Linked DNA regions of Homo sapiens. The protein of the gene in region 1 binds, or shares a complex with, the protein of each later gene. Each region holds a gene or a part of one and is shown in the gene's direction. Other genes may lie near its edges.

What was found.
Region 2: CNOT11 (region 1) and CNOT9 share a complex: the UniProt entries of both Homo sapiens proteins name them as parts of the CCR4-NOT complex.
Region 3: CNOT11 (region 1) and CNOT8 share a complex: the UniProt entries of both Homo sapiens proteins name them as parts of the CCR4-NOT complex.
Region 4: CNOT11 (region 1) and CNOT7 share a complex: the UniProt entries of both Homo sapiens proteins name them as parts of the CCR4-NOT complex.

What each region holds. Positions count from the first base shown.
Region 1 is NC_000002.12:101,262,886-101,269,885, forward strand, and holds part of CNOT11 (CCR4-NOT transcription complex subunit 11), read left to right. Parts: intron 1-1,959; coding exon 1,960-2,162; intron 2,163-3,236; exon of another isoform or gene 3,237-3,791; coding exon 3,792-3,994; intron 3,995-6,154; coding exon 6,155-6,251; intron 6,252-6,330; coding exon 6,331-6,528; 3' UTR 6,529-7,000. UniProt on the Homo sapiens protein: Component of the CCR4-NOT complex which is one of the major cellular mRNA deadenylases and is linked to various cellular processes including bulk mRNA degradation, miRNA-mediated repression, translational repression during translational initiation and general transcription regulation.
Region 2 is NC_000002.12:218,585,823-218,592,865, forward strand, and holds part of CNOT9 (CCR4-NOT transcription complex subunit 9), read left to right. Parts: intron 1-1,482; coding exon of another isoform or gene 1,483-1,578; intron 1,579-1,763; coding exon 1,764-1,873; intron 1,874-6,481; coding exon 6,482-6,580; intron 6,581-6,793; coding exon 6,794-6,885; intron 6,886-7,043. UniProt on the Homo sapiens protein: Component of the CCR4-NOT complex which is one of the major cellular mRNA deadenylases and is linked to various cellular processes including bulk mRNA degradation, miRNA-mediated repression, translational repression during translational initiation and general transcription regulation.
Region 3 is NC_000005.10:154,854,703-154,861,630, forward strand, and holds the start of CNOT8 (CCR4-NOT transcription complex subunit 8), read left to right. Parts: upstream 1-3,924; 5' UTR 3,925-4,066; exon of another isoform or gene 4,067-6,928. UniProt on the Homo sapiens protein: Has 3'-5' poly(A) exoribonuclease activity for synthetic poly(A) RNA substrate. Its function seems to be partially redundant with that of CNOT7.
Region 4 is NC_000008.11:17,224,464-17,229,898, reverse strand, and holds the end of CNOT7 (CCR4-NOT transcription complex subunit 7), read left to right. Parts: 3' UTR 1-4,933; downstream 4,934-5,435. UniProt on the Homo sapiens protein: Has 3'-5' poly(A) exoribonuclease activity for synthetic poly(A) RNA substrate. Its function seems to be partially redundant with that of CNOT8.

The sequences.
Region 1 (7,000 bases):
AATGCATGCCAAGTTGTTTGTTGCATGTCTATCCTATGCATACCTAAAGATACAGGCTGGGCGCAGTGGCTCACACCTGCAATCCCAGCATTTTGGGAGGCCGAGGCAGGTGGATAACTTGAGGTCAGGAGTTCTAGAGCAGCCTGGCCAACATGGTGAAACCCCATCTCTACTAAAAATAAAAAATTAGCCGAGTGTAGTGGCATGCATCTGTAGTCCCAGCTACTTGGGAGGCTGAGTCAGGAGAATTGCTGAGGCAGAAGTTGCAGGAGCCGAGATCGAACCACTGCACTCCAGCCTGGGTGACAGAGTGAGATTCTGTCTCAAAAAGGAAAAAAAAAAAATACAGATTCTCATTTTACTGAAATGAGTCTTTTTGTAGCAGCTCATTATCTTTTTGTTTTATACCTGTTAAATCTTCTTATTGCTATCATTTCCTTTTCCATTTTAAAGTTTTTCTTATAAACTCCTAATTTACTTTAATTCAAAGAAAACACTTGTAGAATTTGAAATAATATAGCTGCATTTTTTGGGGATTTCTTTAAGAGATGGAATCTTGCTATGATGCCCAGGCTGGACTCAATCCCTTGAGGCTCAGGGGATCCTCCTACCTCAGACTCCCACATAGTTGGAATTACAGGCATGCACCACTCTACCTGGCATCTGTTTTATAGGCTTCTGTGTGCTTTGAATTATGAAGGCAAGCTTTCTGCTTTGGGATGAGAACATGTTTACCAGATGATAGTGTAGTATCACCATGAGTTTGAAGTTCACACAGTGACTTTTGTACCATTTGGTTTACAGTAGATCTTTGACATACATAGGTTTAATATTTGAAGTTTCTGCTGGTCACAAGTGTGACTGAAATGTCCATGGCATGTAATGGCTTCTTTTAAATATTTGCTCGGGCAGAACTCTAAATTGCATAGGTCACCAGGAAGATATATGAAAAGCAGATCACTCATAATAAGTGGGTCTAGCCAAACACCAGGTGTCCCCACCTCGCAAGAACTCTCTATCACATAAGTAGTATTTCTCATAAATTGTTAAAAACTTTATTTTTGTAAGTGGTTGAAGGGAGATTCAGATGCTAGTCCTGGTGAGGTAAGTGAAGAGGCAGTGGAGATGTTTAAGATAAAGTGATGATTTTTAACTAAAAAATATTTTCTGTAAACTCAACAGTAGACTCTCAAATTTGGCAGGGCTAGGATCCATGACAGGAATAAGCCACTCCTGCCCTATGTGGAAACTATGTGAGATGTGAAATTGGTTCAGCAGAAGTCCTAGCCAGCATTTATTTCAGTGGGTTTGTAACTCAGGGATGAATCTTGTTTTATAAAATAGTTGAGTTGAACCACTTCATTTTCCTTTTGTACTTCTATTGTTTTCTGAAAATGAATATAGTATTTGTGAATTTAGGGATTCGTGACGGTTTCCACATTCGTTTCGAAATATCAAAAGGCAACCATACTTTTCCTCCTGCTGCTTCATCGCCACGTAATTTGTTACTTCAGTTATAAGATGCAAAGATAAAACTAGTACAAATCATAGTGGCAGCTGAACAAATAGTGGTAACTAAGAATAGGATGTGTGAGGGCATAGTATTTCATTTTTTCATCAAAAGACTTCACCCGTTTAGGAGTCGTGCCCTTTTGCTGTTGAGTGGCCATGCTCAAGTGCAGCATGGGCAGATCACGGCCAGGCTTTCCTCACTTCTGCAAAGCGAATAGATTGTTCTCTGGCATCATGCTGGCATAGTGTTCTTTCATTGTCTTGTTTGCATTCTGACTGAAACCCTGACTTCCTGTGTCATTCCTGCTTCTGATTTTGAAGTATGAGAGTTCTAGTCACATCATCCTTATTAAGAGATTTCTTTGCATACTTTATTAAGTGAAATGTGTGAGATGTGTAGAGATGTTAGCTTCCTGATAGGAGCAACTATCACGGCTCTCATTACAGGCCATTTTCGACCAGAGTTTATTCGTCCACCGCCTCCACTCCACATTTGTGAGGATGAACTTGCTTGGCTAAACCCCACGGAGCCTGACCACGCGATCCAGTGGGATAAATCGATGTGTGTTAAGAATAGCACTGGTGTGGAGATCAAACGAATAATGGCCAAAGCCTTCAAAAGCCCCTTATCCTCTCCCCAACAAACACAGGTGTGTATTGATTGTAAGCATTTTCTTATCTTTTTTTTTAAATTTATTTTTAATTAAAAAAATTTGTTTTTGAGACAGAGTCTCACTCGGCTGCCCAGGGTGGAGTGCAGTGGCACGATCTCGGCTCACTGCAGCCTCTGCCTCCCGGGTTCAAGTGATACTCGTGCCTCAGCGCCCCCAGCAGCTGAGACTACAGGCATGCACCACCATGCCCGGCTAATTTTTGTATTTTTATGAGATGGGGTTTTGCCATTGTTGGCCAGGCTGGTCTGGTGGCTTCAAGTGATCTGCCAACCTTGGCCTTCCAAAGTGCTGGGATTACAGGTGTGAGCCACTGTACCCAGCCATTGTGAGCATTTTCTTATCTTTAATCCAACAAGAGTTTATTTTTTTTTTGGAAAGTGGTAAGCAATAAACTAATCCTGTCACTGTGAGTGAGCAGTAGGAAGTTGCAAAGGTTTTTGGGTCTCTGAAGCTTTGTTCTACTCTTTGGTAATTTTGCTGTGGTGGGGCAAGAAGTCTGATGGCAAAAATGTTCTAACTTTTCTTTGTGATGTTTGTCCCTGGGAGAGGTGGGGTAGTGGGGGTGTCACTGCTGTGTACAGTGGGACACTACACAATGGTTACGTTTGAGCTGATGGTAACGCTTCTGATGGAAAGTGGAGTTACTGACAGGCTGTAGGGAGGAAAACAAGGCTGGGAAGGGGAACCCGCCCCCATCACACAGCTGGATCGTGGTGTATTTGAGATTAAAGTAGCCCCCACTGCCCGAGTGTGAGACTGGATGACTCTCCTCAGGAAAGGCAAGGCCACTCTTCTATTGGTTGGTGAATTTTATCCAGTTTGCACACTTTTGAGTTAGAACTTTTTAGGAGATGACCTCTCCTATCACGTTTGCCACCAAAAATATCATTTTCAAAACGAAATAATAGCAACGTTTGTAGTTCGCTTTGCTCGCAAGACCATCCTGAAAACACAGTCCACTGTGGAACATATTAAGTAGACGGGGGAAAAAAAGCATAGGACATTTAAAGAGGAAGTGCTTACTTCATAGAAAAAGTCCTTTGAGGATACCTGTTTGAATTACAAAGTGTGGGTGTGACTTGAACTGTAAAGTTCTGCAGACTGATGACTCGCAGCAGGTCAGCTGTCCGGATTCCCGCTCCGGCTTCCCACTCCGCCCCCTTCTCAGGTATTTCTGGTCTCCACCTGGGTGGGGTGGGGCAGGACTGTTTCTTGGGAGAACTAGTTGGTCATTAAGATTATTTTTAGTTACAACAGATGACAGAAAAAAAAAACCTGCAAAGGACTTGACATTGTTACAACCAGACAGTATTTTATCTGACCAGACAGTGTGGAGTCTGGTTTGATGCCCAGGAATAGGAATCACTAGCATATTTATAAACTGTCTTAGATGTGTTTGCATTTTAGTTTGTTCAAAATTAAAATGTAAATTTAGAAATGTCAAGACATCATGGGTTTGAAGGAAGAAATTTATGAAGTTGGTTCAATGCAGATAGTTTTGTAGCTTTTTGTATAAAATGCTTATTTCATATACATGGGAAAAAAAATTGACTCAACACCCTTTCTCTCTCCCTCTCTCTCTCTTTAAAAATCTGGTGTATTTAGCTACTTGGTGAGTTGGAAAAAGACCCCAAACTTGTCTACCATATTGGCCTCACCCCAGCCAAACTTCCTGACCTTGTGGAAAACAACCCTTTAGTCGCTATAGAAATGTTGCTGAAATTAATGCAGTCAAGCCAGATCACTGAGTATTTCTCTGTCCTGGTCAATATGGACATGTCTTTACATTCAATGGAAGTTGTAAATCGGTAAGTTTCTAGATTTGATCAAATGTGTGGGGATAGATACAGATTAGATGGCCAGGAAAGAAAAATTGTAACAGATTTTTGTCTTGATATTATTGGCGTAAGATTAACTATTAAAGAAATAATGTAAGCCTTAGCATTCACTACATGTAAATTTAGCATGCGTTAATAAGAACTGAGGGTAGGATTTCAAACATATTTAGTGTTAGTAGAAGCATAAATGAAATTTAATTGCTGAAATTTATTTTATTTATTTATTTTTTTGAGAGGGAGTCTCACTCTGTTGCCCAGGCTAGAGTGCAGTGGCGTGATCTCAGCTCACTGCAACCTCCACCCGCTGGGTTCAAGCAATTCTCCTGCCTTAGCCGCCCTAGTAGCTGGCATTACAGGTGTGTGCTACCACACCCGACTAATTTTTGTATTTTTAGTAGAGACGGGGTTTCGCCATGTTGGTCAGGCGGGTCTCGAACTTCTGACCTCAAGTGATCTGCCCACCTCAGCCTCCCAAGTGCAAGGATTACAGGCATGAGCCAGTGTGCCAGCCAATTGCTGAAATTTATTTCCCTATACATAGTCCTGTCTTCTTTATCCCTATACAAATATAGATACTATTTTTTCTTAGTGACTAACAGCTGTAAGTGTGGAAAAATATGGACCTTAAGAGCTGAGAATCCTAGGAATGCTGTCCTAGCTTCCTCGTGCTCTTCTCCCAGCCTTTCTGACCCCCAGGCTCCTGACCCTGCCATCCTTGACTGTCAGGAAAACAGAACATCTTCCCTTCTTGATGTGTGCTGTACAGTGTTTGCATTTTAGAGTATTTTCCTTACAAATATCTTTTAGGTAAATTGTGAATTAGATGGGCTGGAGGGCTTAAGTTGTTTATGTGCAGGGTGGCCAGAGGTTCAGGTGTGCCTGAGAGTCCTGGTGGAGGCTTTGCATCCTGAGCTCCCTTTCACGTGGTATCCTGTTTTGGATGATAAATTATATGGTCCTCCTGTATGGGGAAATCCATTCTGAGTGCCAAGCAACTAAACTTCAGTACTGGAGAGCATAGTTTTTGAACACCTGTTTGTAAGTTGGGGCTTTTTGAAAAAATCTATGTGAAATTGAACTACAGAATGTGTCCTTTTTTCATCAACTATTGGGGGAAAAAAAGCCCAGCTGGAAGCTGAGGGAGTGGAAGTACGTGCATAGAAGGAGAGTGCGTTCTTTTAGCGGTAGCAGAGGGAGGAAATGTGAGGTTTCCAAATTAATTTTTAACTTTAACCGTGGTCACTGGCAAAACCGGCTAGCTGCTTGTTGAAAACGTGCTGCTGCACATCTCCCCCCTCTTTGTTCCAGTCTTTCCCCTACTGAGTGAAGACTCACTCTTTTCAGTGGCCCAGTTCTGTGCAGGTCCTCCGGATTGACCACGCTGAGTGTTCACTTCCCTTTCACCATATTCTTATAGCAGTTCTTGTCTCTACCAGACATTTGGCCCTGAGTCCAAGATGCAGAATCACTTACATCTTTTTATCAATGTGATTCTATCTGCTCAGTATCTTGGAATTCAAGGACAAGGTCCTGTTTGTTTTCCCCCGATACCTATCATAGTGCATCATCCTTAAACGTGAAACACGTTTTTTGGCGACGCACAAATCTCAAGAGACTGCAGCAGCTCATGACAGTGTCCTTGGAGCACTACATCCTCATGCCTTATTGAAAAAAGTTTTGAGGTCTGTTAAGTTTAGAAAAGGCAGCATATATTAATCTTCTTTTGGAAATTCATACTTTGAGTACGGAATTCCTGTTCCCACCCCACTCGTTTTTCTCATTAAAACATTCCATGTAATCCTTTGGAAAATACTGGCTTTGGCCTTTATTATGACTCTAAATTCCAATAACAGACCATGACTTAGGATTTAACCAAGAATACTCAGGGACAGGGCTCAAAAAAATAATTGCGATATGTAAATGTAAGTAGAGACATTTTAAACAGTGTTATTTATGAGTAAGTAGGTATGGCTCTTAGGTTAATTTGCCCAAGTATATTTAAAACTAGGGAATTGGATATGTCAGAAAATTCCACCAGATGACCAAAGCAAATTTTGTATTTTATGGTTAACAGTGTTTCTCAATGTTAGCAAATGAAATTAATGGGCCAAATTTTCTTTTACGAAACAGACTAACTACAGCTGTTGATCTACCTCCTGAATTTATTCACCTTTATATATCAAATTGCATCTCTACTTGTGAACAGATTAAGGATAAATATATGCAGGTAATATAAATTTTTGTAAATTTTATAAATGGCTGCCAGGAAAATGAGCAGACTAACATTTTTTTTTTTCCTTTTTCAGAATCGGTTGGTGCGTCTTGTGTGTGTGTTTCTCCAATCCTTGATCCGTAACAAAATTATTAATGTACAGGATTTGTTTATAGAAGTGCAGGCATTCTGTATTGAATTCAGTAGGATACGAGAAGCTGCTGGTCTTTTCCGGTTGTTGAAGACATTGGATACTGGGGAAACACCTTCTGAGACCAAAATGTCAAAATAATACCTCATCAGAACCATCCCATCCATTCACTGTTCAGCTGTACTGTGATTTAGTTTTTACACCGTTAAAACCCTGAGTGGATTGCTTGGTTTAATGCATATAAACAGTACTTTATCTACTTAAAGCAAAGTTTTGCTTTCTTGAATGACTTTTTCTGTGAGATGAATTTTTGATAAGAACTAGGGAAAACATGTCTTTTAGGTGTCTTGCTGATGACTATCCATAGGAGGAATGGCTATCCCAAAAAAAGTTCCGCAAAAAAGTAGATGAGTTTCTTTTTTTTTTAAGCACTAAAGAACAAAATGCATTTTTCATTAATACAGGCTTCTGATGAACCAGGAATCCTGTTTTCGTAAAGTTCCAATGTTGATGAGAGTAAATTCTTAAGCATTTGTCCTAGAGGTGAAAGCAGCTGAATGTTTCTGAACCATCAAGAGGCAAACAAACAGGAGTTTGTTTCTTGAACCTGCTT
Region 2 (7,043 bases), about 120 Mb from region 1:
AGACACAAGGTCTCACTTTTTGTTGCCCAGGCTTGTCTCAAACTTCTGGGCTCAAGTGGTTCTCCCACCTTGGCCTCCCAAAGTGCTGGGATTACAGATGTGAGCCACTGCACCTAGCTGAAATTTTTTTAAACTGCCATTTATAACAGCACCGAAATGTGAAAATTTGGGTATAAATCTTTAAAAATATATGCATGATCTATAACTAAAAACTACAAAACTGATTTCTAATGAAATAAAATGCAGAGATAAACCATGTTCATTGATTGGTGTATCAATGATTCAGTATTGTTAAGTTGTTCATTCTCCCCAAACTGATCTATAGATTCAGAGTAATTCCAACAAAATCCCAGCAGCACTTTTTTTAGAAATTGGCAGGCTGACTGCTATGGACTGAATTGTGTCCTCCCCAAAATTTCATGCTTTGAAACCCTACCCCCTCATGTCATGGTATTTGGAGATGGGACCTTTGAAAGATAATTAGGTTTAGATGAGGACATGGCCCTCATGAGGTTAGTATTCTTCTAAGAAGAGACACCAAAGAGCTTGTGCTCCCTCATTCGCTCTCTGCCATGTGAGGACATAGTGAGAAGCTGGCCATCTACAAGCCAGGAAGAGAGACTTTACAAGAACTATACCATACCATGCTGGCACCCTGATCTCAGCTTTTTTTTTTTTTTTTGTGAGACAGATTCTTGCTCTGTTGCCCAGGCTAGAGTGCAGTGGCATAATTTTGGCTCACTGCACCCTCCGCCTCCTGGGTTCTAGCAATTCTTCTGCCTCAGCATCCCGAGTAGCTGGGACTACAGGTGCGTGCCACCACACCCGGCTAATTTTTGTATTTTTAATAGAGACAGGGTTTCACGATGTTGGCCAGGCTGGTCTTGGAACTCCTGACCTCAGGTGATCCAGCTGCCTCAGCCTCCCAAAGTGCTGTGATTACAGGTGTGAGCCACTGTGCCCAGCCTGATCTCAGACTTTCAGCTGCTAGAACTATGAGACAATAAATTTCAGTTGTTTAAGCCACCAGTCTATGGTATTTTGTTATGGCAGCCTTCTAATAGACTGATCCTAAGATTTATATGGAAAGCCAAAGGAACTAGAATATCCAAACATTTCTTTAAAAGAACAAAGTTGGAAGACATATACTACCTGAGTTCCACACCTACTGGAAAAATATAGTAGTCAAGGCAGTGTAATACTGGAGAAAAGAAAGATTTACAGACCATTGGAGCAGAATGAAGAGTCCAGAAATAGACCCACACATATATGGTCAGTTGATTTTTGACAAAGGTACAAAGACAATTTAGTGCAGAAAGCTTTTTTTTTTAGAGAGAGTCTGTCACCCAGACTAGAGTGCAGTGGTGCAATCTCAGCTCACTGTAACCTGTACAGGTTCAATTGATTCTCCTGCCTCAGCTTCCCGAGTAGCTGGGATTACAGGAGCCTGCCACCATGCCTTGCTAATTTTTGTATTTTTAGTAGAGACGGGGTTTCACCATGTTGGCCAGGCTGATCTTGAACTCCCGACCTCAAGTGATCTGCCCGCCTCGGCCTCCCAAAGTGCTGGGATTACAGGTGTGAGCTACTGCGCCGCCCTCTTCCTTTTTTTTTTTAATACGAGTGTGAATCTGATTCCTTTAACAAACCCCAGTTTGTGTTCTGTTATTTAAGTTCACAACTCACTGGATAAACAGTTCGAAGTTAATGTTAACTGGAAACCCTAACTGTAAAATAATTTTGTTTGTCCTTATTTTCTTTAGGGGCCCTGGTGAAAACAGATGAACAAGAAGTAATCAACTTTTTATTAACAACAGAAATTATCCCTTTATGTTTGCGAATTATGGAATCTGGAAGTGAACTTTCTAAAACAGTATGTACTTTTAACTTAGATTTTACATTGTGTTGACTCTTAAGCTGCTTCCTTATGGTCCTGGGATCATTTTCTCTCTTCAAGCTTTTGAAATTTGTATGAATATTTTCTGTTTTGAATAAAAATTATTATGAAACAATTATTGAAAAACCCAAACCATTCAGAAGAAAATCAAGTTAAACACTAAATTTCTTTTCTCCAAACCCACATCTCACTCCACAGGTAAATTCTAAGTATATTATTACGGTTTCATTTTTTTAATTTTAAAATTTCAATCCTGCTCCTTCTATAACCGGGCTTTTTTAAAATACATAATCAATTATATGTACTTGAGCTTCTGCTTACTATGTACTTTAACCATGAATGACAACATGACAAGGTACAGAATTCTTACTCATTGTACAGAATTCTTACCTCATTGTTCTGTCTCAGACCTCCATTGCCATAGTCCTTTTGTCTTCTAACATTGAATATTGCAGAGAAGTCTCAGGGTCAGCCTAATTCTTTCCTTTTTTAGGTGAACTTACTTTTTTGTGTGGTTACCTACAAGTGTCTTTTATTATTTTTAAAGTTCATTTGATAATCATATATCTTTTTTTTTTTTTTTCTCTGAGATGGAGTCTTGCTGTGTCACCCAGGCTGGAGTGCAGTGGTGTAATCTCAGCTCATTGCAACCTCCGCCTCCCGGGTTCAAGCAGTTCTCCTGCCTCAGCCTCCCAAGTAGCTGGGACTACAGGCATGTGCCACCATACCCAGCTAATATTTGTATTTTTAGTAGAAATGGGGTTTCACTATATTAACCAGGCTGGTGTTGAACCCCTGACCTCAGGTGATCCGTCCGCCTCAGCCTCCCAAAGTGCTGGGTTTACAGTCATGAGCCACTCCACCCGGCCTTTTTTTTTTTTTTTTTTTTTTTTTTGAGATGGAGTGATGTAATCTCAGCTCGCTGCAACCTCCACCTATCAGGTTCAAGCAATTCTTCTGCCTCAGCCTCCCACGTAGCTGGGACTACAGGCACACACCACCACTCCTGGCTAATTTTTTTTTTTTTGTATTTTTAGTAGAGATTGGGTTTTGTCATGTTGGACAGGCTGGTCTTGAACTCCTGACCTCAGATGATCCGCCCACCTTGGCCTCCCAAAGTGCTGGGATTACAGGCGTGAGCCACCTCACCCAGCCTCAATTTTTTTCTGAAAGAGCATATTACTTGTGTCTTTTTTGTTGATTTGTATATTTTTCTCTTTTATTCGTTCAAGTCTCTTGGTTCAACATCAGTTATGCTCTATTATCTGTCTTTCATATTTTTTTCTCTAATCACTTTCAATTTTTAAATTTCATATTATTTGATTTTTTTCAAGGTTACTTTTCCATACTGCTGACAATTTTGGGTAGTATTCAACCTCTGCTCTAAAATTTGCCTTGTCACATTAAATTACTTTTTTAGTCTAACAAATATTTTATTCTTGAGTTGGGTGTAAGCAGGTATAATGATTTTTTTGGCTTTTTACTTTTAAATATATATATATGGAATGCTTCATGAATTTGTGTATTATCTTCGCACAGGGGCCACACTAATCTTCTCTGTGTTGTTCCAATTTTAGTACATGTGCTGTCTAAGTGAGCACTGGTTTTTTAATTTTTAATTAAATTATTTATTTATTTAGAGACAGGATCTCTGTCTGTCACCCAGGCTGGAGTAGAGAGGCATGGCTCACTGCCGCCTCGACCTCCTAGGTTCAGTTGATCCTCCCACCTCAGCTTCACAAGTAGCTGGGACCACATGCCTGCTCCACCACACTCAGCTAATTATTTTTATTTTTTGTAAAGACAAGGTCTCCCTATGTTGCCTGGGCTACTCTTGAACTCCTGGGCTCAAAGGATCTTCCTGCCTTCTGCCGTAGTACTAGGAGTACAAGCATGAGCCACTGTGCCTGACCAATTTATTGTTTTTAAAGAGACAAGGTTTCACTATGTTGCCCAGGCTGGAATGCAGTGGCTATTCACAGCCATGATAATGGCACACTATAGCCTTGAACTCCGGGGCTCAAGCAGTCTTCCCACTTCCCTCTCTGGAGTAGGTAGCTTTGATACTGGCACACATCCCTATACCTGGCTATTTTTAAGCTTTTTATTTTAAATATTCAATATATGGATGACTGTCAAAGGCATTGTTGAGCAAAAGAAGCCAGACACATGGGAATTCATACTGTATGTTGATTATGTGAAGTTTAAGAACAAGCAAAGCCAATTACTGGCAATAAGTTGGATTCGTGGTTAGCTCTGAGGAAAGAACATTGACTGGGGAAAGGTACAAGGGAATGCTGGAATCCTGAGTTGGTAGAAATATTGCTTTTTTCTGTTTTTTTTTTTGTTGTTGTTGTTTTTTGTTTTTGAGACAGTCTCACTCTGTCACCCAGGCTGGAGTGAAGTGGAGTGATCTCGGCTCATTGCAACCTCTGCCTCCTGGGTTCAAGCAATTCTCATGCCTCAGCCTCCTGAGTAGTTGGAACTACAGGCACACACCATCATACCCAGCTAATTTTTTGTATTTTTAGTAGAGATGGAGTTTCGCCATGTAGCCCATGCTAGTCTTGAACTCCTAAGCTCAGGCAATCTGCCTGCCTCCACCTCCCAAATATTCTGTATTTTATACAATATTTTGTATTTTAATCTGGTTATAGTACATAATGTGTACATAGGTAAAAATTCAAGGTACACTTAAGATTAGTGCACTTAACACACTTCACTGTGTGTAAGTTTATATTAGGTTCCTATATAACCTGCTGCTATAACAAATTACCACAAGCTAGAAGGGTAGTGGCTTAAAACAATGGAAGTTTACTGTTTTATAGTTTTGGAAGTCACAAGTTCTAAATGAGTTTCACCAATCTAAAGTCAATGTATCAGGAGGGTCATGCTTTCTCTGGAGGATATAGAGGAGAGTCTTTTTGTTGCCTTTTCTAGCTTCTAGAACTGCATTTCTTGCATTCCCTGGATTATGGCCCCCTCCCTCTTCAGATCCAGCGATGTGGCATGTTCAAATCTCTTTCTGCTTGTCACATTGCTTTCTCCTTTGTGGTAAAATCTCTCCCTACATCTCTCTTGTTGTTGTTGTTGTTGTTGTTGTTTTGTTTGTTTGTTTGTTTTAAGAGATGGGGTTTTCTCTGTCGCCCAGGCTGGAGTGCAGTGGCATGATCATAACTCACTGCATCCTTGAACTCCTGGCCTCAAGCAGTCCTCCCACCTTGGCCTCCCAGAGTGCTGAGATTACCAGCATGGGTCACTTTGCCTGGCCTTCTCTACATCGCTTTTAAGGACACTTCGTTATTACATTTAAGGCCTACTTGGATAAACAGGGATAATCCCCCATCTCAAGATCCTTAACTTAATCACGTCTGCAAAGTCCCATTTTTCATTTAAGGTAACATTTGCAGAGTTTGGTGATTAGGGCCTGGATATCTTTGAGAGCCATTATTCAGCCTACTACAGTGTTATAACCCCAATAAAATAGTAAAATAATTCCACAGTTCATTTTGATGAGCAGCCAAGAAAGAGTATCATTATCGTGATTGTCTAATTTAAATTAAACTAATATTTTAATATCTCTTTTATGTAAGAGCTAATGAGCTCAAGTTGAGGGAAAAATTGAGGCCACATATAAGCTTCACAGCCAGGATATGTTTTATTACTGTTAGATAATCTTCAAAGAGAAGCGTGAAAATCTTATTTCTTCAAGATCTTTTAAGAACAAAAAAGGCCTTATCTCAGCCGAGTGCAGTGGCTCACGCTTGTAATCCCAGCACTTTGGTAGGCCAAGGCAGGTGGATCACGAGGTCAGGGAATTCAAGCCCAGCCTAGCCAAGACGGTGAAACCCCGTCTCTACTAAAAATACCAAAATTAGCCAGGCATGGTGGCAGGAGCCTGTAATCCTAGCTACTCGGGAGGCTGAGGCAGGAGAATCAGTTGAACCAGGGTGGCAGAGGTTGCAGTGAGCTGAAATGGAGCCACTGCACTCCAGTCTGGGCGACAGAGTGAGACTCCATCTAAAAAAAAAAAAAGAAAAGAAAAAAGAAAGAAAGGCCTTACTTCATCTGGAAGAGAGGAGGCATAGCTGAATAAATCATCTTGGCCTATGGAAAAGAGAAGAGCCTTAGATATTCAAATGAGGCTTGGATCTCAGCTGTGCCATAGTAACTTTGTCACTTGGGACCTTAACCTGGTGCATTATTGATTAACAGTTATACCGGGCACATAGTAGGTACTCTGTAAATGAGAAGGTCTCTGAGTTTTTAAGAATTTGATAATTACACGGAACCTACCCTTGTATGTAAAGTGAGAATAATAATGGTACCTACCTCATTGATTTATTATAAAAATAAGATAAGCATGTAAAGCCTCTAGAAAAAAAAACTGGTACAAAGTAATGTTCAACATGGTAATATTTATTATTCTTTGTACTATACATATATGATAAAGTTGTACATAATATACAAGGATCCCTGCTTGCTCAATTTTCTGACTGATAGTCATGCCTGGGAAAATGAGTAGAAAATGAGAAGATTAAATCTGAGCAACTTTATAAACTCTTCGATTTTGTTTTGCTTCAGGTTGCCACATTCATCCTCCAGAAGATCTTGTTAGATGACACTGGTTTGGCTTATATATGTCAGACGTATGAGCGTTTCTCCCATGTTGCCATGATCTTGGTGAGTTCTTTCATCTATCCCCTTTACAACTACTTCTCATCACAAAGCTTAATCTCTTTATAACTGGCATTGAACAACTTCAGTCCTCTGACTAGAACTAACAATTTTGGAACCTTTTATGATTCTTGGACTATCTGATCTCTGATGTCAATTAGAATTTGTTTGTGTTTTGTGTGTTTTTTCCAACCCCTCCCCTTATTTTGGGGGAAACAGGGTAAGATGGTCCTGCAGCTATCCAAAGAGCCTTCTGCCCGTCTGCTGAAGCATGTAGTGAGATGTTACCTTCGACTTTCAGATAACCCCAGGTAAACATTTATAGGATGTATAGGACTTTAGGGAAATACTCTGCTGAACAGTTTCCTAATCTCATGGCATAGCTCCTGTGTCTTTAGGACAGGGAAGTGGGGATATAACTGCATTTAGTTTGTCTGAGACAGAACTTAGATTCTTTTAAAAATCTGAA
Region 3 (6,928 bases), on another chromosome or scaffold:
GGTTGGAGTGCGGTGGCGTGATCTTGGCTTACTGCAACCTCTACCTCCCGGGTTCAAGCAATTCTCCTGCCTCGGCCTCCCGAGTAGCTGGGATTACAGGCGTGTGCCACCACACCCAGCTAATCCAGGGGTTTCACCATGTTGGCCAGCATGGTCTCGATCTTCTGACCTCGTGATCTGCCCGCCTTGGCCTCCCAAAGTGCTGGGATTACAGGCGTGAGCCACCGCGCCTGGCCTTCTCAATTTTCTTAAACTTATACTCTCCTGCTGGGCGTGGTGGCTCAGGCCTGTAATCCCAGCACTTTGGGAGGCCAAGGCGGGCAGATCACCTGAGGTCAGCAGTTCGAGACCAGCCTGACCAACATGGAGAAACTGTCTCTATTAAAAATACAAAATCAGTCGGGTGTGGTGGTGCATGCCCGTAATCCCAGCTACTCGGAGGCTGAGGCAGGAGAATCGCTTGAACCCAGGAGGCAGAGGTTGCGGTGAGCCGAGATCGCGATATTGCACTCCAGCCTGGGCAACAAGAGCGATACTCCGTCTCAAAAAAAATGAAAAATAACAACAACAACAACAACAAAAAACAAAAACGTATACCCTCCCAAATGAGATTTGTTCGAACCTGACTTTCTATAGTTTGCAGCTCAAAAACAATAGGGGCCAGGAGCAGCGGCATGCACCTGTAATCCCAGGCACTCAGGAGGCTGAGTGAGGAGGATTACTTGAGGCTGGGTGCCCAGGGATTCAAGACCAGCCTGGATAACGTGGCAAGACCCTCATCTCAAAAAGCAATAGAGTTTTCTTCTCAAATATGAAATGATGTAACTGAATATATTCTTTTCCAACTACCCTCTCATTCATTAGGGGCTTCCTTCCGACTGGGAAGCAGTGACTTCTGGAAAATTATTCTAATTTTGCGATATCCATGAGTACAGCATCATATCCAATGTTCAAAACGTTAACACTCTAGGCCGGGTGCGGTGGCTCAGGCCTGTAATCCCAGCACTTTGGGATGCCAAGGCGGGAGGATGACGAGGTCAGGAGATCGAGAACATCCTGGCCAACACATTGAAACCCTTTCTCTACTAAAAGAAAATACAAAAAATTAGCCAGGCGTGATGGCTGGCGCCTGTAGTCCCAGGTACTAGGGAGGCTGAGGCAGGAGAAAGGCGTGAACTCGGGAGCCGGAGCTTGCAGTGAGCCAAGATTGCGCCACTGCACTCCAGCCTGGGCGACAGAGCGAGACTCTGTCTCAAAAAAAAAAAAAAAAAAAAGAGTAACACTCTAACTTCTCCTAAAATAAAATCCATCTGTTTGCTTTATATCTATTTTCAATAATTTGAGAAACGAACACCCAATTCTGGGTGAGGGGTGGTAGTGAGGCTGGACATGGTGTTTCCTGTTTGTTTTAGCACACACCAGGCCCAGTGCCACAGGAAAAAACAAAATTCCAAGAAAGGATTGGGGAGGCCGCTTTTCATGTGACTACTGCCTGCCTGTCAGCGCTAGCCTCTTCTGACTCTAAATTACAAGTGGAAGAAAGCACGTTAGAAACCCACAGAACTGGCCCGGCGCGGTGGTTCAGGTCTGTAATCCCAGCACTTTGGGAGGCCGAGGCAGGCGGACCACGAGGTCAGGAGATCGAGACCATCCTGGCTAACAGGGTGAAACCCCGTCTCTACTAAAAAAAGAGAAAAAAATTAGCCGGGCATGGTGGCGGGCGCCTGTAGTCCCAGCTGCTCGGGAGGCTGAGGCAGGAGAATGGCGTGAACCCGGGAGGCGGAGCTTGCAGTGAGCCGAGATCGCGCCACTGCACTCCAGGCTGGGTGACAGAGCGAGACTCAGTCTCAAAAAAAAAAAAAAAAAAAAAAAAAAAAGAAACCCATAGAACTGACTGGGGGATGGGGCACTTGCCTGCCTTCTTTATCAGTGTATCCCTCAACGGAATCACTGTTTATTTTTTTATTTTTTGAGAGGGAGTCTTGCTGTGTCGCCCAGGCTGGAGTGCAGTGGCACGATCTAGGCTCACTGTAACCTCCGCCTCCTGGATTCAAGCAATTCTCCCTGCCTCAGCCTCCGGAGTAGCTGGGATTACAGGTGCCCTCCACCACGCCCAGCTAATTTTTGTATTATTTAGTAGAGACAGGGTTTTGCCATGTTGGCCAGGCTGGTGTTGAACTCCTGACCTCAGGTGATCCGCCTGCCTTGGCCTCCCCAAGTGCTGGGATTACAGGCTCAGTGAGCCACCAATCCCGGCCCCAAATCGACTGTTTTAGGGAGAGCAAACTGAGACATGCCATTTATTGAACGCTCTTTTATATCTTCCTCGGTGCGGGGTGTTTTTCCAATTATTAACTATTTAATCTTCACAAGCTCACGACAGCCATTCGTAACCTAATTTTGCAGATAAGGAGCTAGACACTCATTTGGGGGGGAGAAGAGGAGGACTGGAGTTCAGAAAGTGCATTTGATGCTCTTATCCTGGAGGCTGGAGCTAGTTCACCTCCCTGGAGAACAGCTTTTGGGAATCCCGTTTGAAATTGCCGCTCAAGGCCAGCTCGGCATCCAGCCTAGGAATTGGAGGATTTTGGAGAATCCCCTTAGGGGGAAATGTTTAAAAGTGCAAAGTGAATAGTAGAAGCCCCTCTCCTCGTCACTAGGGGTACATTTGCCGTTTTCTTATCAACAGCCTCTCAAGTACAAGCATCTGGGACAAGAACTAGAACCGTGCTTGGGGCAGCCCCCACGTCCTCTCGGGAACAGGGGTGGAGCGCTGGCGGGAGTGGCTGAGGGCGGCCCGCCGCCGACACTGTGTGCAGGAAGCGGGCGCTTTGTCTGCTCTCCCACCGCGGAGAACACGAGGCGGAGGCGCGCCCCAGCTGGCCACACGCTGCCCAGGGCCGGCGTCGGTCAAGAGCCCTCTCTTCAAGCAGGATTAAGAGGGAACCAAGGGGCTGGCAGAGGGGCCTCAGAAGCTCCTGGGCGAGGCCTGAGCCCGTGGGTCTCGACACTAAAATCTGGCGAGCTCCCTGCGCGTCCGCAAAGATTTTGGAGCTCTGAAGAGCCCGGCGACGCCTGCGCTGGCCAGGCGCCGTGCCCACGGGAGGCGCCGTCCTCTTTGTAACTCGAGCAGACCCTGGCGGGCCAGTTGCTATGGCAATGTTCCTCGCTCTGCTCGGTGAGGCCGGGAGGTAGGCGGGCCTTGGCGGACGTCACCCACATTCGGCTTTGGGGAGCCGCCCCACCCCCAACTAATTGTTTGCCAGAAAGGAACCGTAGGATAGATGCTTTGTGAGACATCTACGGGGCCATGTTAGAACAGAAAGTCGCGACAGCCTCTTTCTCCGTCAGCCTCTTCACAAATCCCTTCGTGCCAACGATTTTAACGGTCCTTCAAAGCCAGGAGGAGGGGGCGTGGTAATTCGAGGGGTTTGTTCGAAGGGCCACGCCCTTTCCTCGGCCTTTGGATTTTTCCAGGCCGCGCCCACGGCGGGGGGGTGGGGGGGGGCGCTAGTTCTAGACCACGCCCCTTCCTTGTTCGCTCGGAAAGAGGACCAAAATGGAGGAGTAAGAATCATGATTAAATTGAGCGAGCGCAACTAATCACGCGAAGAGGGCCGCAGGCGGGCCGTCTTCCGCAAGCGTGCTTCCAGGCCTCCACTCCCCACCTATTCGGCGGCACCCTGTTACTTCTGCTCCTGCGCGCTGCTTCCCGCGACCTCACAGGCAGAGCGAACACGCACGGAGTCGCAGGGGCGCGCAAAGGGGGAGGAGCGGGCGTGACCAGGCGCGCGCGCGCGTCTGGAGTGACTCTAGAGAGCAGGCGAGTCGGGCGGATCGGGTGGGTAGAGTGGTGCCGTCCGGTTGTTTGGTGGGAGGCACGTAAGACCGCTCTGGGCACGGGGGCGCTCACCTCACTGGCTCGTTCGGTTCTAGGAGCAGATCCGGGGTAGAGGGAAAAGAGCTCCGGGCCAGGGGCTGCCGTCGCCGCCGTCGGGGAGTCAGCCCGCCAGCCCGCCAGCTCGTCAGCCCGCCAGCCAGCGCTTCGCGGGCCCTGTCGGTCCCGGTAAGCGGGCCTGCGCTTACCGGAAAGAGGAGCGTAAGATGAAAGAGTGTGAGAGACCATTGGGGGTCTGTAGGGGGAAGGGGAGTGGGGGCGTGTGTAAGGGGCAGGGTGTGTGAGGAGGAGAGGAACCCCAGCAAAGAGTAGTAATAATAATGGCCACCGTCACACGATAATATTCGAGTAATATGTGCGGGGACTTTACAAAGCATCTCATATGCTTCATTTTAACTTCTACTCCAATCCTCCGAGGTGCGTACTGTTATCAAACCCATTTTACAAGATAGGAAAACCGAGGCACGAAATAGATTAAGTGGCTTATGCAAGGACACACGACTACTACGTGGCCTGGCCTGGCTTCGAACTTAGTTATCTTAGTCCTAAGGCCCGTAATTTTAACTTTGCTTTACCAAACAAAAACAGAAGAAGAATGGCGTGTCAGAAGGAGGAGGACTGAGTGTGATTTGAAGTGGAAGGATGATGATAAACGAGAAGAGAATGATGATGGGAGACGGAGTAGTGGGGAGGAGGACCTGAATTTGGAATCTTGCGGGCCTCCCCCTTCTAAATCGCCGCCTCTTCCTTAGTTCTTGCGGCCCCATAACTTTTTCTTGGTGTTCTATGGCTTTATGAATGGAGGAGCCAACTCACAGACCTGGGCCATTCGGGTGGTTTTAAGAAGTTTGAACTGCGGTTCAATCCAGGGCAGTGCCTTGAGACACTGTTTGGAGGTAAGGGAGGGTCAGAGGATCCTCTTAAACGCTGCTGCTATTTATTTCTTCAAACGTGCCACTTCCTTTTCTATCATATCTATGCACGGCAAAGCCTTTGTTCAGTCCTCTAGAATAAGGAAGTGATGTTTATTGTTTCCTTGTACACTTGGGCTTAAACGAACAAAATCAGACTCAACGTTTCTTTTCCCGAGCAAGGCCTTGATTGCTTGCAGAGAAAACTTTCCTGTGGCTTTATCATTAGTTGCCCTTCAGAGCTTTCCTGTGTAAATAAGAAGCTATGTTTTGGAGAAGTTTACACCGTAGATGAACGGGAGCGATCTGAACATACTGCACTGCAGGTCAACACAGAGCAGGGACTTCAGTAATTCATAGGTGTGAGTGTGTTTGTGAAAACCTTTCCTTCTTGCACAGTTTTCTGTGTAGCTCATGTGGGAGTCAAGTTTTTAAGTCAGCCCGTGAGGCAAACATTGTATGTAATAAAAATTAACCCTTAAAAATTCCTAGGAAGGTGCAACGCTTGAGATTAGCATCCTGTTTCTGACTACATCCTGGACGGTTTTTCCTTCAGTTTTGAAACTTGTTACTGTTGCTTTGGTTGTAACCCAGATAAGTAATTAGATTACCTTTAGGGGCTGTGTTGTGCAAATAAGCATATTTGAAAGCCATAGAGTTGTGATGCGCTGTGAGATGCTTGCCCTGAGGAGGCTTAAAAGGAGGAAGACAAACCCCTATCTTAGGCTCATTTTGGAGCATGTGCTTACAAAGTGGAAAGTGGCAGGCAGAATTGCTGGTATGATGATGATGATGATGATGATTTTTTTGAGACGTGCTCTTGCTCAGTCGCTGAGGCTGGAATGCAGTGGCGTAATCACAGCTCACTGCTGCAGCCTTGACTTCCTGGGGCTCAAGTGATCCTCCCAGCTCAGTCTCCTGAGTAGCTGGGACTGCAGGCACACACTACCATGCCTGGCTAAGTTTTTGTACTTTTTGTAGAGACGGGGTCTCACTTTGTTGCCCAGGCTGGTCTCGAACTCCTGGCTCAAGTGATTCTGCAGTCTCAGCCTCTCAAAAGTGCTGGGATTACAGGTGTGAGCCACTGCCCTTATCCTGCTGGTATTTAAGTTGCTATTTTATTTTATTTTTTGGCCAGCATATGCAGTAATTTGACTTGCTAAATTAAATGTGCATAGTGCGATTCCTCTTTAATTTTTGAGTGGCACTACATTCAGGGGCTTGCAAGCTATTGTTTACTTCCCCACAGATCCTAGCTAACTTTGGAGCAAAAATGGCTTACATATTTTTGCCAACTGTCTGGCTTCGGCAGTCCCCATATATATGCCAGATATGTATAACAGTGGTTAGCTTTTTAAAAACCAATTCTCTTTTAAATGGAAGTTAAAGGCGTCTTTTGGTTGTGTGGGGTTTTTTGTTGTTGTTGCTTTTGCTTTTACGGAAACATCTCTCAAAAACTCAGGAGTGATACACCCACTTCCTCCAAAGTAGTTATGGTTATGTTTGAAATGACACCAAAAATGAAGGGTATTATTTCAGTTAGGGAAATAAGGAAGTACCACCGATTTAACATTATATGGGTATAGAAAATGGTTTTAAGGCCTTTTGCAGGGGAGAAATCTTAAGCAAGTTTAGGAATCTAAAATTCTGAGTCGAAACATTTTCTGAATTATGGTCAGATAGTGTAATTTACTCCACATTCATTCTGAACTTCTCTCTTTTCCTGATCTTTATTGTTCTTTTGCAAGCCTGTAATAGAACAAAAACAAGAGAAGAAATTTATTCTGGCTTTAAGAAGTTTCTACTATGTTTTTTGGGGGAGATGCCACATAGTCTACTTAAGTTTAATTACTGTAATTACAGAGAAAAATCTGTGGAAGTATAGGATACCTTGAATAAATGGAATCTTCAAGGTTTGCTGGCAAACCAACAGTTTGATTTCTCAGAAGTTTCTTAGAGAAATGATGCCAGTTTTGTTTTGCTCCAGATTCTCATTGTTGCATCTGCCAATCTTGAAAATAGGAAGCAAAGATTTTCCTTGCTCTGTCCCTTGGGAACCACTTACATTCGTTTTACTGTTTCTAGGAAATTTTCTTTAAATATATACATTAGAGCCCAC
Region 4 (5,435 bases), on another chromosome or scaffold:
CACACTTCCCTTGATCTGCTTATTTTTATTCCATCACCATTTACCCTTTTTTTTTTTTTAAATTTTGTAGCCATTCTTATGATGCTCTTGATTTGTTGGTTACACAAATCAATTTTATTAAAAATCCAAAGATAAGTCTTTAGGTATATTTTGTACCAAATTAAATTAGAAGACAAAAATTGTGCTTTCATAGTTGCTACAAAGGTAAATAATGGAGAGATTTGGTACAAAACAACAAAATATATATATATTCTCATATATATATATATAGCTGATAAAATTACCTGAGGAGTGTAATGCTTATTTTTTTGTGTATATCTTTGCAATCTATTTTATATATATTGACAAAAGAGACTGTGAAATACTTAGCCATGCAGAATATGTGACCAGACCAGAGCATGTGTAGGAAGACTTTACGGTAATCATTAACTCTACCCCGAAATGATGGACTACAAGTTATAATGTGTGTTACCTACACTTCAATCAGTAATATTAGCAAATCTCCAAATGTTAGTCACATTGGTTTGTCTCCCTTGTACATTCTTTATTCATGATATTACAGTGCTGTAACTGGGTGGTCCTTTTTAAACAAAACATTATTTGCAAAACAGAGGGTATTATTTGTTTTTAAAGCTTTTGTAAATAAAGGCTTCAAAATGTTTTCTTATAAATGTTGATGACTGGTGATTTTCTTTTGGAAATACTTATTTGGGGGATATTGTTCATTTTTATTTGGGCAACTCAACAGAATTCAGTAACTTCCTTCATTAACCCTAGATGATTATTAGTCCATTAATTGAAAAATCAGTCTGAGTTTTCTGCATTTCAAGTGTTGGCTTATTCTTGTTCTTTATGAGTACCTCAACTAGCTAATTAAGGACTGACTTCTGTTTCTCCTTTCCAGGAATGCATTTATTCCGAAGGATATACTTCACAAAGTAAATACATTTGGTATAACTGTGGCTTTTTAAAAAATCTAACACAATGTAGTAAGTTTCTAACTGGCTTCTTTTGTCTTCGTTAAAAAGGAAGTGAAGCTTCTTTTCGCTTGTGATTTGTTAGCTGAGAAAACTAATATTTAAATTCTGTTCAACTATTTGAGAAATCAATGCTGGATTTCAAATAGGAATGATAAAGATTGCCTTTTTATTAGCCACATAGTTGCTCAATCTCATAACTTGTATCATTTCTGGCTTCTGTCCCTAAAAAGTATAGATAATCCCTAACTTACTTTCGACTTAATGATTTTTCAACTTTACAGTGGGTGTATTGAGAGGTAACCCCATCAAAAGTTTAGGAGCGCCTTAGGACCAAAGATGGGGTTATAGTTTCTACTGAATGTGTATTGCTTTTGCACCATTGCAAAGTCAAAATTTATAACTTGAACCATCGTAAATTGGGGGACTGTATGCTGTTGCCTGCATTAAATGCATCTTAGTATTTTTTCAGATGTAACCTCATTGTAGGTTGAGCAACCGTATAGTGTAACTTTTGTAGAGGAACATTTTGACTTTTACTGGGTCTAAGTTTTACTTTTTTATTTTGTTCCAGACAGTCTCAATGTTTGTAAAGTCTAGGTTCCAGATGTAAGATATTTGGCTGATATTTTAGTGTTACTGAGCCATTAATTAATTACAGGCTCATATATTCTGTTAAATCTACTAGAGCAAGGGTTGTCAAACTATGGCCCGTAGCCAGAATCAGCTTGCTGCCTGTTTTTGTGTGGCCCATGAACTGAAAATGGCTTTTAAATGGTTGGGAAAAATAATCAAAAGATTATTTCCTGACATCTGAAAATTACATGAAATTCAAATTTTAGTGTCTATAAGTTTTTATTGGAATGCAGCCACACTAATTTACATATTATCTATGGATACTTTTTTGCTATAATGGGAAAGTTGAGTAGCTGCTACAGAACCTGTGTATGTGTGTCTTGTTTCACATTGCCGCTTGGCAAGCTACAGAATCATGGTGATGCAGATATTACCTGAAAGCATTTGGAATGCCCTGTGTATTGCTAGATTTATTACTTTTTCTGCTACCAGTTCATGCCCTGTATCTCAGAACAAGAAAAGTACCTTTGAATGTTACACTTTCAAGGCACATTGGAATATGGACTATTTTATTATATGCTGGTACATTGTGTTTATAATGCAGTGTCACCATAACTGGTAAAAGAATAGACTGACAGTATCAGACTAACATCACAATATTCCCAACTGGTGGGAAAGCAACAGTCAGAAGAATTAGAAAATTTAAATGAAACATCACAGCAAAATTTCACAAAAGTAATAAAAATGAGGCTGCAACCAAAATGTTTACAAGTAGCCTATTTGTTAGCCAAGCAAAGAAAACCATTTACTAATGCTGAATTACATCGTGCTTGAAGATAGTAACCAACCCAAAGACATGTGTCCAGAGAAAATTAAGACATCAGCCCTTTGATGAGAACAGTAGTTTGAAGAATGAGGATTTTGGACACAACATCAAATGACACTGTTAATTCTTTGCCTCTTACTAGTCAGTACTGCCTAGCTTTATTTTTTGAGAAACCATTGCTGGATTTGAAGTGATCGAAGAATTTGTATGGAACTACAAGTGGGAATATTTTCAAAAAAGTTGATAAACAGTACAACCTGAAGTGGAATCTACTAAGATGTGATGCAACCGATGCTGGGAAAAATGCATGAAGCAGAAAAAAAGTTTATTTGGTCAAATTTTAAGGCTTGTGAAAACGTAAGTTGTTTAAAGCCTGTAGTTACTCACTTGATTATTCATCAGCAGGTACTTCACAGGAAATATTGGTGTTACTGAACTGGTCAACAGTTAACTTCATTTGCTCTTGTGGACTTAACCATCTTCAGTTCCATGATTTTTTTTTTTTTGTGAGAAACAGAAGCTGAATATCCTGATTTGATTTGCCACACAGGCGTTCAATGGCTTAGCAGTGCTAAAGATTTATTTTTATTTTTTTGGGCTCTGGGCTGACATTGAAATTTTTCTGAATGAGAAAAACCATCCTCAACCACTGTTTTTTAACACTGAGTAACTTTGGAAATTAACTTTTGCCACAGACTTGAAAATGTTTCTTAATGAATTTGACCTGAAATTACAAGGTACAACAACATAATATGGTAAATTCATTTCAATAAAAACTAAAACTTAAGATTGTCAAGCTGCTTTATATACTTTCTGTGCTATGAGAAGTCAAAACAGCGCTGTATTGCCAAATCCATTTTTAGTGGATATATTTTCCTGTAGCAGTTTTTTGGACCTTGATGCAGTGCAAAGAAAATTTTTAAATTTTAAAAGCATTTAACTGCAATTAAATGCTTTTAAAGTTTCCTCTTAATCTTCTGTTGGAAATGAATCATCTTGAATGAATGACATGCTAAAGGGCAAATACCAAAAAGATGAATCCTACAAATGCCTTACAAGTGATGAATATGCTTAACTAAAATCACATGCTCATGGGTGGATGTGTCAGTATTTAGCAGTACCTTGACCTGTTTGTGTGAAAAGACATTTTCAAAGATGAAATACGTGAAATCCCATTACACATCAGCATTAACAGATTAACATTTTCTATTTATTCCAATGAGGGGATACCAACTTTCAGCCCAAATTGAGCAAAATGTTACCTCCCGTCCCCTGCCAAAAAATCCCATTATTCCCATTAGTAGAACTCTATTACTAAAAAAAGAAAAAAAAATTGTACTCAATATTTTGAGTTTTCAATTTTTAGAATAAAAATTTGGTGAAAAGTTTCCTTGAGTACCTAAATAATGTCCTTCATTTTGTCTTAGCTTGCAAAGCCTCTAATATTTGCTACCTGCCCTTTTCAAAAAAAAAAAAAAAAAAAAAAAAAAGGCTTGTCCACCTCTCTACTAGAAGAAACTCAAGGGTCTATGTCTGTCCTGTTTGCTATTTCATCTGCATTGCCAAATGCAGTGGCTCCTCTGGGTAGGCAACCTGAGGTGGAATCAAATTATGAATGCATATGTTATCTCATGTCTATAAAATAAATGTGTTAGAATTTATAAATAAAGGGATAGGAAAAATGCTGATTATTCTGTGTGTCGGTGCTTTGTAGTGAAGGCCAGTTCACACATGCCATTTGCTATGTTGGTGTAATTTATATGAGAGTTTCTTTTATAACAACGTTACCTGTCATTTATTTTTCTATTAAGACATTATAGAAACGTAGGACTGTACACATCCAAATCCTGCAGAATTTTCATTTCAGGTTTTGAAAGTTAAAAAAATGTCACCATAGAATGAAAATTCCAAGAAAACAAGATTCATGTACATTATCACTAGACAATTTCCATTTGTTTTAAACAGTTTTCTACAGCATTAGTTACATTTAACGTTTAGTATAAAAGCAATTGAGCAATTTCTCTTTAGAAGTCCATTTCATTGCTTTGTAGCCATAGTCTGTAGGTGAATGAACAAGCTACATTTCTCCAGAATTACTCATTTTCTTTTTAAAGATAAACTGGTCAATACTCTCCTTCCTGGTATGGAGGAATTTTTTGTATATGAGAAGCATTCATGAATATAATCTGCCCTCTTGCTTTATTGTCATAGGAGGGGAAATTCACTGCTTTCACACCCTTCTGTTTTGGCTCTTTCTCCCAAAAGATAAGAATCTTTATTTAGTATCATACCAAGAAATTGGAGTTCCTTTAGCTTCAGACTATCATCATGGCTTCCAAATTGTTAGGAAATACAAGTTTGCAAGACCCCAAGGGGACTTAATATTTTACATCTTACTAGCCATGTCATAGGTTTTAAGTGCTTTTAATGGGGAACTGTTTCACTCATGCCATATACCTGTTTTGTTTTTCTAAAAAATTAATACTGTAAGTTGTGAGCAGGTGTCTTGTATCACTGCGAAACCCATGCATAATAAAAACTTGTTCTTGAGCTATATGTGTGTATACAGACTTTCCTTCCATTCATTGTAGCCATTCTGGGGCTGTCCTCTACTTCTTGCCTAAGTATATGTTTTTTAAATAACTTTAGCACATTTGCATGCTACTCCAAGATGAGTTTATAATTAAGGTTGCTTTTTAAAGTATTCAGCTTTCACACAATAAGTGTTTGATTAGTTCATTTAAGATGTTTTCAATTAGGGAGCCATACATACTGACAGAAAAAGACACAAAATCTAAACTGACAAAATAGCCTTGCTCTCATAACTGAGAAAAATACAACAGGAGAACTGACGCATTCTGTAGTATCTTTTTAAATTCAGAATCAACGGAATTTTACCTTGAAGCATTATGCGTTTTTTTTTCAATTGATTAAGCACCTTTATCAATCAAACAGAAGCAATATATTAAGCATTAATAATTTCAGGTAGGATTCAGCTCCTTGTACTGTTAAACCTTCCCCGGAAGATGCAACATAAATCATAGGTTTTCATAAAC